2 separate regions of the Homo sapiens genome follow, and region 2 is reported to be linked to region 1. Evidence: microRNA targets listed by miRTarBase, many of them from high-throughput screens and not tested one by one. Region 1 holds a microRNA gene; the other region holds the end of a gene's coding sequence.
Evidence for each region. The annotated mature microRNA hsa-miR-6795-5p reads UGGGGGGACAGGAUGAGAGGCUGU and lies in region 1 at 1,935-1,958, opposite strand. An mRNA with a match to its seed (bases 2 to 7 or 8) in the 3' UTR can be bound and repressed. Matches are read on the target gene's strand: a 7mer-m8 pairs with bases 2 to 8, a 7mer-A1 pairs with bases 2 to 7 and ends in A, and an 8mer does both.

Region 2: the mRNA of DUSP7 is a reported target of hsa-miR-6795-5p. Seed matches in the 3' UTR shown: 7mer-m8 at 1,605-1,611.

The regions. Positions count from the first base shown.
Region 1 is chr19:15,177,388-15,180,456 of GRCh38, forward strand. MIR6795 (microRNA 6795) reads right to left here and starts at 1,963; the gene lies at 1,896-1,963. NOTCH3 (notch receptor 3) reads right to left here. Exons shown (of 33, transcript NM_000435.3): 20 at 2,685-2,869; 21 at 1,977-2,109; 22 at 1,638-1,895; 23 at 1,436-1,554; 24 at 138-703. RefSeq lists a silencer at 258-427.
Region 2 is chr3:52,048,334-52,051,333 of GRCh38, reverse strand. It overlaps DUSP7 (dual specificity phosphatase 7), which reads left to right. Exons shown (of 3, transcript NM_001947.4): 3 at 212-2,415. The coding sequence ends at 519. LOC124906238 (a long non-coding RNA gene) reads right to left here. Exons shown (of 2, transcript XR_007095908.1): 2 at 2,376-3,000. Among named protein-coding and RNA genes, the nearest start is that of DUSP7, 6.7 kb to the left of the region's middle.

The sequences.
Region 1 (3,069 bases):
CACCGATGGGCAGATAGAGTGCACAGAGAAACAGACGGGGCAAGTGGATGGGCAGGTGGAAAGAGAGGCAGGGCCCACGGACAAACAGACTGGGATGGATGCATAGACAGACGGATCGATCGGGTGGATGGGCTCACTTGCAAGTGCGCTCGCGGCCACCGGCGTGGCAGTCGAAGTTGTCGTAGAGGCAGGCGGGCGAGCTGCAGGCGGGGTCGCAGCGGCTGTTGTTGAAGAGGCGCCAGCACTGCAGCGCCTCGCATTGCCGCCAGGGGTCGCCCACGCTCAGCGAGCAGTCGCCGCCGTCCCAGCCGCAGCCTGGGCTGTTGCACTCGCGGTCGCAGCGCTGGTCCCCGCGCTTGGCCTGGCAGGCGGCGCGCGGGCACCGCGGCTCCTCCGAGACCTCGGGTGCCGCGGCGGGCGCCTCGCAGCGCGGCCCGGTCCAGCCCTGCGCGCAAGCGCAGCGGAAGAAGGGCGCGAGCGGCGCGGGGCGGCAGGAGCCCCCGTGGAGACAGGGGGCGGCCGCGCAGCTGGCGTTGCTGGCCCCCGGCGGCGACCCCGGGAAGCTGCGGCAGGAGGGTCCCGACAACCCTGGGGGGCAGGCGCAGCGCGGCCCGCGGGGCGTCTGCTGGCATGGGACGCCCACCGGGCACTGCAGCTCCCGGCAGGAGCGCGCCACCCGCTCGCAACGCGGACCCCAGAACGGCTGGGGGTCGGGTTTGGGGAGGGAGGGATAAAAATGAGGGTGGGGAGTGGAGGGAAGGAGGAGAAGAAATGGAGGAGTGGGGAAAAGAAGAGTCAAGGGGAGAGAGGGGGAAGAGAAGAGGTCAAGACTAAGGAAGGTTGAGACCCCCTCAACCTCCCCATGTCCCACCCAACCGCTCCCCTTTCCACACTGGAGACCCCACCTGGCAGATAAGCCCTGCCATCCCAGGAGGCCACGCCCCCCAATCACCATCCTCACCCTTTTCCCTTCAAACCTCCAGGAAATGTCGGGGCAGGGGGTTGTTTCTTTGTTTTTTGAGACGGAGTGTCACTCAGTCGCCAGGCTGGAGTGCAATGGCGTGATGGCTCACTGCAACCTCCGCCTCCCGGGTTCAAGTGATTCTCCTGCCTCAGCCTCCCGAGTAGCTGGGATTACAGGCAGCTGCCACTACGCCCGGCTAATTTTTATATTTTTAGTAGAGACGGGGTTTCACCATGTTGCCCAGGCTGGTCTCTAACTCCTGGCCTCAAGTGATCCTCCCGCCTCGGCCTCCCAATGTGCTGGGATTACAGGTGTGAGCTACCACACCCGGCGGAAATGTCAGCATTTTCCAGAAACTCCCTTCCCTTCGATGTCTCCCCTAAAGCCACATCCTCCTCCTAGACGCCACGCCCCTACTACTCCAGAGGCCACGCCCCTACTCCTCCTCCAAAGGCCGCCACCCACACCTACCTGGGCACAGTGACAGGTGAAGGTCAGCCCACCCCCAGGACCCGGGCTAGGACGGCACTGGCCTCCATGCTGGCATGGCTGGGACTCGCAGGGAGACAGGACAGTCTGACAGCGAGGACCTGAGCGAGCGGGAGCATGTAGATCAGCCACAATGGGGGAATGACAGGCGGGGTCCCAGGCCAGCCCCTTCGCCAACGCTTACCTGAGAAGCCAGCATGACAAAGGCAACGGAAACCTCCGCCTGGGTCCTGCAGGCAGTCCCGGGTGTGTGCCGCGTGGCAGGCACCTGAGCGACACTCATTGATGTCTGCCTCGCAGCGCAAACCAGTGTATCCTGGGGGACAGGTGCAGCGGAAACCACCCACCAGGTCCACGCAGGTGCCATTGTGTAGGCACCGGGGCCCTGAGTCCAGCGGTGGGCCTGGGCCGCAGTCATCCTCATTAATCTCGCAGAGCACCCCTGGGGGAAGAAACGAGGGGTGGTCAAGAGGGAATGAAGACAGCCTCTCATCCTGTCCCCCCAACCCTGGCCCTGGCATACCCAGCGTTCCTGGGGGACAGGAGCAGAGATAGCGGGCCACGAGGTCAATGCATGAACCCCCGTGCTGGCAGGGCTGGGAGGCACACTCGTCCACGTCGTCCTCACAGTTATCACCATTGTAGCCAGGAAGACACTTCAGTGGGGTAAGAGAGGGACCCACTCAGCTTAGTGGGACACAGACCCACCTGGACATACCCATGAAGACGCAAAGAACCCCAGCACAAAAGGACACACACAGATGTTCAGCGCACTACCAGTAGGTAATCCCAGCACTTTGGGAGGCCGAGGTGGGCAGATCACCTGAGATCAGGAGTTCGAGACCAGCCTGGCCAACATGGTGAAACCCTGTCACTATGAAAAATACAAAAATTAGCTGGGCGTGGTGGTGGGTGCCTGTACTCCCAGCTATAATGAGAGGCTGAAGCAGAAGAATCACCTGAACCCAGGAGGCAAAGGTTGCAGTGAGCTGAGATCGCGCCACTGCACTCGTCTGGGTGACAGAGTGAGAACCTGTCTCAAAAAAACAAACAAATAAAAAAACACCCCAGATCTACCCAGAGTGACACCCACAGATACACCAAGAGTCACAAAAGCAAAAACTCAGACATATCTAGAGACATACCCATACCAAGCCACACAGAAATGTGTGCCCAGACGCACCCAAGCATGCCCACCTCCTCTTCCCTCTCCTGGGGAGCGCCCCCTTACCTCACACATGTAGCCCCCCATATAGCCACGGCAGGTCCCCCCATGCTGGCAGGGCTGGGCCAAGCAGGGGTCCACCTCCTGCTCACAGTGGCTACCAGTACGGCCCTCTGGGCACACGCAGTAGTGGGAGCTGTCTTCATCCACACACTGCCCACCCGCCTGACACAGCTGCTCCAGCCGCACCCCTGCAAAGAGGAGAGTGGCACAGGAACAGAGGTAACCCCATACATCCCCCTTCTGCCTCCATCACACAGATCATTCAACATCCTTGGTGGAATGAGTCCCCAGGATCGCACCCACACTCCATCAGGTTGTCACACATCCCCCCAGCAGGCAAGGTCTCATCACTGACATACACACACATGCCTTCAACGCTCACAGCAGC
Region 2 (3,000 bases), not on the chromosome of region 1:
CTAAAGTGTGCAGAGCCCTCTCCACAGCAGTGCTGTTGACCTCTATTCCAAGTTGCTGCCCTACCCACACTGGGCTTGGCCAGGTCCCTCAGGGGTCGGGCAAGACCAGCCAGCCACCATGCTGCCCTCTGTGCCCCAGCCCCACCTGCCCACCCATGTGGGAAGGCTCCTTGAAGGAGGCACCTCCCTGACCCATGCCAATGTGTTTCAGACGAAGCCCGCTCCAAGAAGTGTGGTGTCCTGGTGCACTGCCTGGCAGGCATCAGCCGCTCAGTGACGGTCACTGTGGCCTATCTGATGCAGAAGATGAACCTGTCACTCAACGACGCCTACGACTTTGTCAAGAGGAAAAAGTCCAACATCTCGCCCAACTTCAACTTCATGGGGCAGCTGCTGGACTTTGAGCGGACGCTGGGGCTAAGCAGCCCGTGCGACAACCACGCGTCGAGTGAGCAGCTCTACTTTTCCACGCCCACCAACCACAACCTGTTCCCACTCAATACGCTGGAGTCCACGTGAGGCCTGGTGCACGGGGGGCATGGCACCAGGCCCCTGCTCGGCTCTCCACAGGGCTAGGTGGGAGAGCCCAAGCCCGCCACCTCTGGCCTGAGGAACCCCCAGATGTCACCTGTGCCCAGAGGCCCAGGCTGATCGGTGTCGGAGCGCCCCTCACCATCCTTGGGGGCAGGGCCCGCAGGCAAGGTCTCCCACTGCAGGGCTTGCTGGAGAGGCCTCGGCTCTTGGACACGTGGCTTTGGGCGTCCACCAGGGCCTCATCCTGTCCAGGACGCTCCTTTCTGCTGACAGCCCAGCCAGTTTGGCTGTTTTTTAAAGACACATCCACGGACCTGAGTTTACTTTTTACTTTTGGCAGGTAAATCCAAGCTCCCTGGAGCACAAAGAGTGTTTGAGCTCTTCTTGATTTTTCTTTTTTTTTTTTTTTTTTAACAAAAAGTGTTATTTTCAGGCTACATGCAACAGTGGATTGTATAACCCAGTATTTCATCCCTTTCCTGATCCTGCAAGAGAGAGAAATGTTCAGTTTTGTTTTTCGTTCAATTTCAAAAAGCAAGTATCGTGTTTGTTTTTGTTTTTGTTTTTTAATGGAAAAGACAGACGCCATGTTGACCTTGACCAAATGCGTTTTGCACATGTGTGAAGCCTCTGTTTCCTCAGCGGGCCCTTCTTGAAGGGGTGGCTTACTGCTCTTCAGGTATTGGGACCCCCAGTCGTGCCGCCTCCCACCCTTGGCCCAGTCTGACTTAGCTCTGCATTCGCCTGTGATGACTGCTGCAAGTTGTGATTGGTGGGCTGGATGGTGGTCTTTGCATTTTCTGCCGTCTCATCCATCCCTCTGGTGGTCCCTGCAGACCTCCCTGAGGCAGAAGGTGGGGACCCTGGGGCCCTGCCGCTGTCCCCCAGGAGGTGGGCCGCAGGGGGCTGCCAGGCAGTAGCATTAGCCCTCTGGGGTCAGCCCCTAAGAAGGCCTGGGCTCTGAGCCCTTTTATATACTTAGCCACTACTTCTGTCTGTCTGTCTGTCTCTCTCTCTTCCTCTCCCTCTCTCTCTTTCTCTCTCTCCCTCTCTCTCTCTTTCTTTCTCTCTCCCCCCCTCCCTCTCTCTTCCTTTCCTCTCTCTTGTTGTAACTGGGAGTGGAGGCCCAGTGGCTGGGGAGACATTAGGTGGTGGGGCCCAGCCCGACCTCCAGGTTCTTCCTTCTCCCTAGCTGTTGCTTTGGTCTGGCCACTCCCAGCCCCCTTGTCCCCTTGGAAGCTTGCCCTGCCCTCATCTTGCCCATGCCTTCTACTGCCAGGAGACTTGCACCCATTTCAACCCTAGGGCGGGGGCAAGTGGGGCAAGGATGGACCAGCAGAAGGGGGGTAAGGCTCTGTTCACTTCCCCCTGCCTCCACAGAACGAAGCCACGGATTCCGTTATCTTCCTCCAGTTTTGTTCCTTCTCCAGCCTCAGTTCCACCAGGTGTCAGGACTGCATGGGGGCCTGGGGCAGGCAGAGGAGTCAGGCCAGGGTCCCTGACGGAGCAGCACTCAGCATGTGAGTGAGGCCACAGAAAAACTCTGCCCCACTGCTTCTTACCTCACGGGGGTGGCTTTCAGGGATTCTTTAGCGCAGCAGATTAAAATCTTGCCACAGTCGAGAAATTGACAACAAGCTTCCATGCTGTACATGGTTCTCTTTTTCTCTCTTTTATTTTTAAAAAGAAAACCCAGAAAGATGTACCAGATTTGTGTAAATGAGGGTATGCCAGAAGGTGGCCAGTTTTGCTTTATGATCTTATGAAGGAAGATTTGTGACCCTACGTATATATATACACACACATACATATATATATATATCCCGAACCAACAACGGGACTTTGTTTATATTGCAAATAAATATTATTTTTTCTTTAAAATGAGTCGTGTCCGATAAGGGCTTGGGGCCTGGGAAGGAGGGGAAGGAGTGCTGTCGACAGGCATCCTAGTGCCTGCTCTGTGTGAGGCACTGGCCTGGTTCTGCTTGGGGTCTGCTGGCCACTTAGACTAATCAAGGTGCCCCGCAGATGGGAGGGAGCAGCCACAGTTTCTGGATGAAGCTGGGGCAGGTGGCATTTCCCCAGCCCTTAGGCACTGGCAGGCAGAGGCATCAGGGCTTTCTCTGTGGGCTTCTGCTGAAATCAAGGCTTGGAGAGGTTGTATATACCAAGTTGACACAACTGAGTCCTGACTCGCCCTTCATTGTCTGAGGCTGTCTGCTTAGGCATTGCCCAGATTGCAGCCCCCAGGACCCTAACTCTTTCTCTTGCTGCCGTGTGGGTGAGAGGGGAATGTGCATTTAACCCTGCCCCTGCAGGTCCTGAGATATCAGTGGGTAGTGACAGGTCAGCCCTTCTTTGCTTCTTAAGGGCTGGGTGGCCTTGGACAGGTCCCTTAGGCCGATTGCACCTGGTTCCTGAGTGCTTTTCAGCTTTGTGGCATGAAGAGCACATTATTGGCCTGGG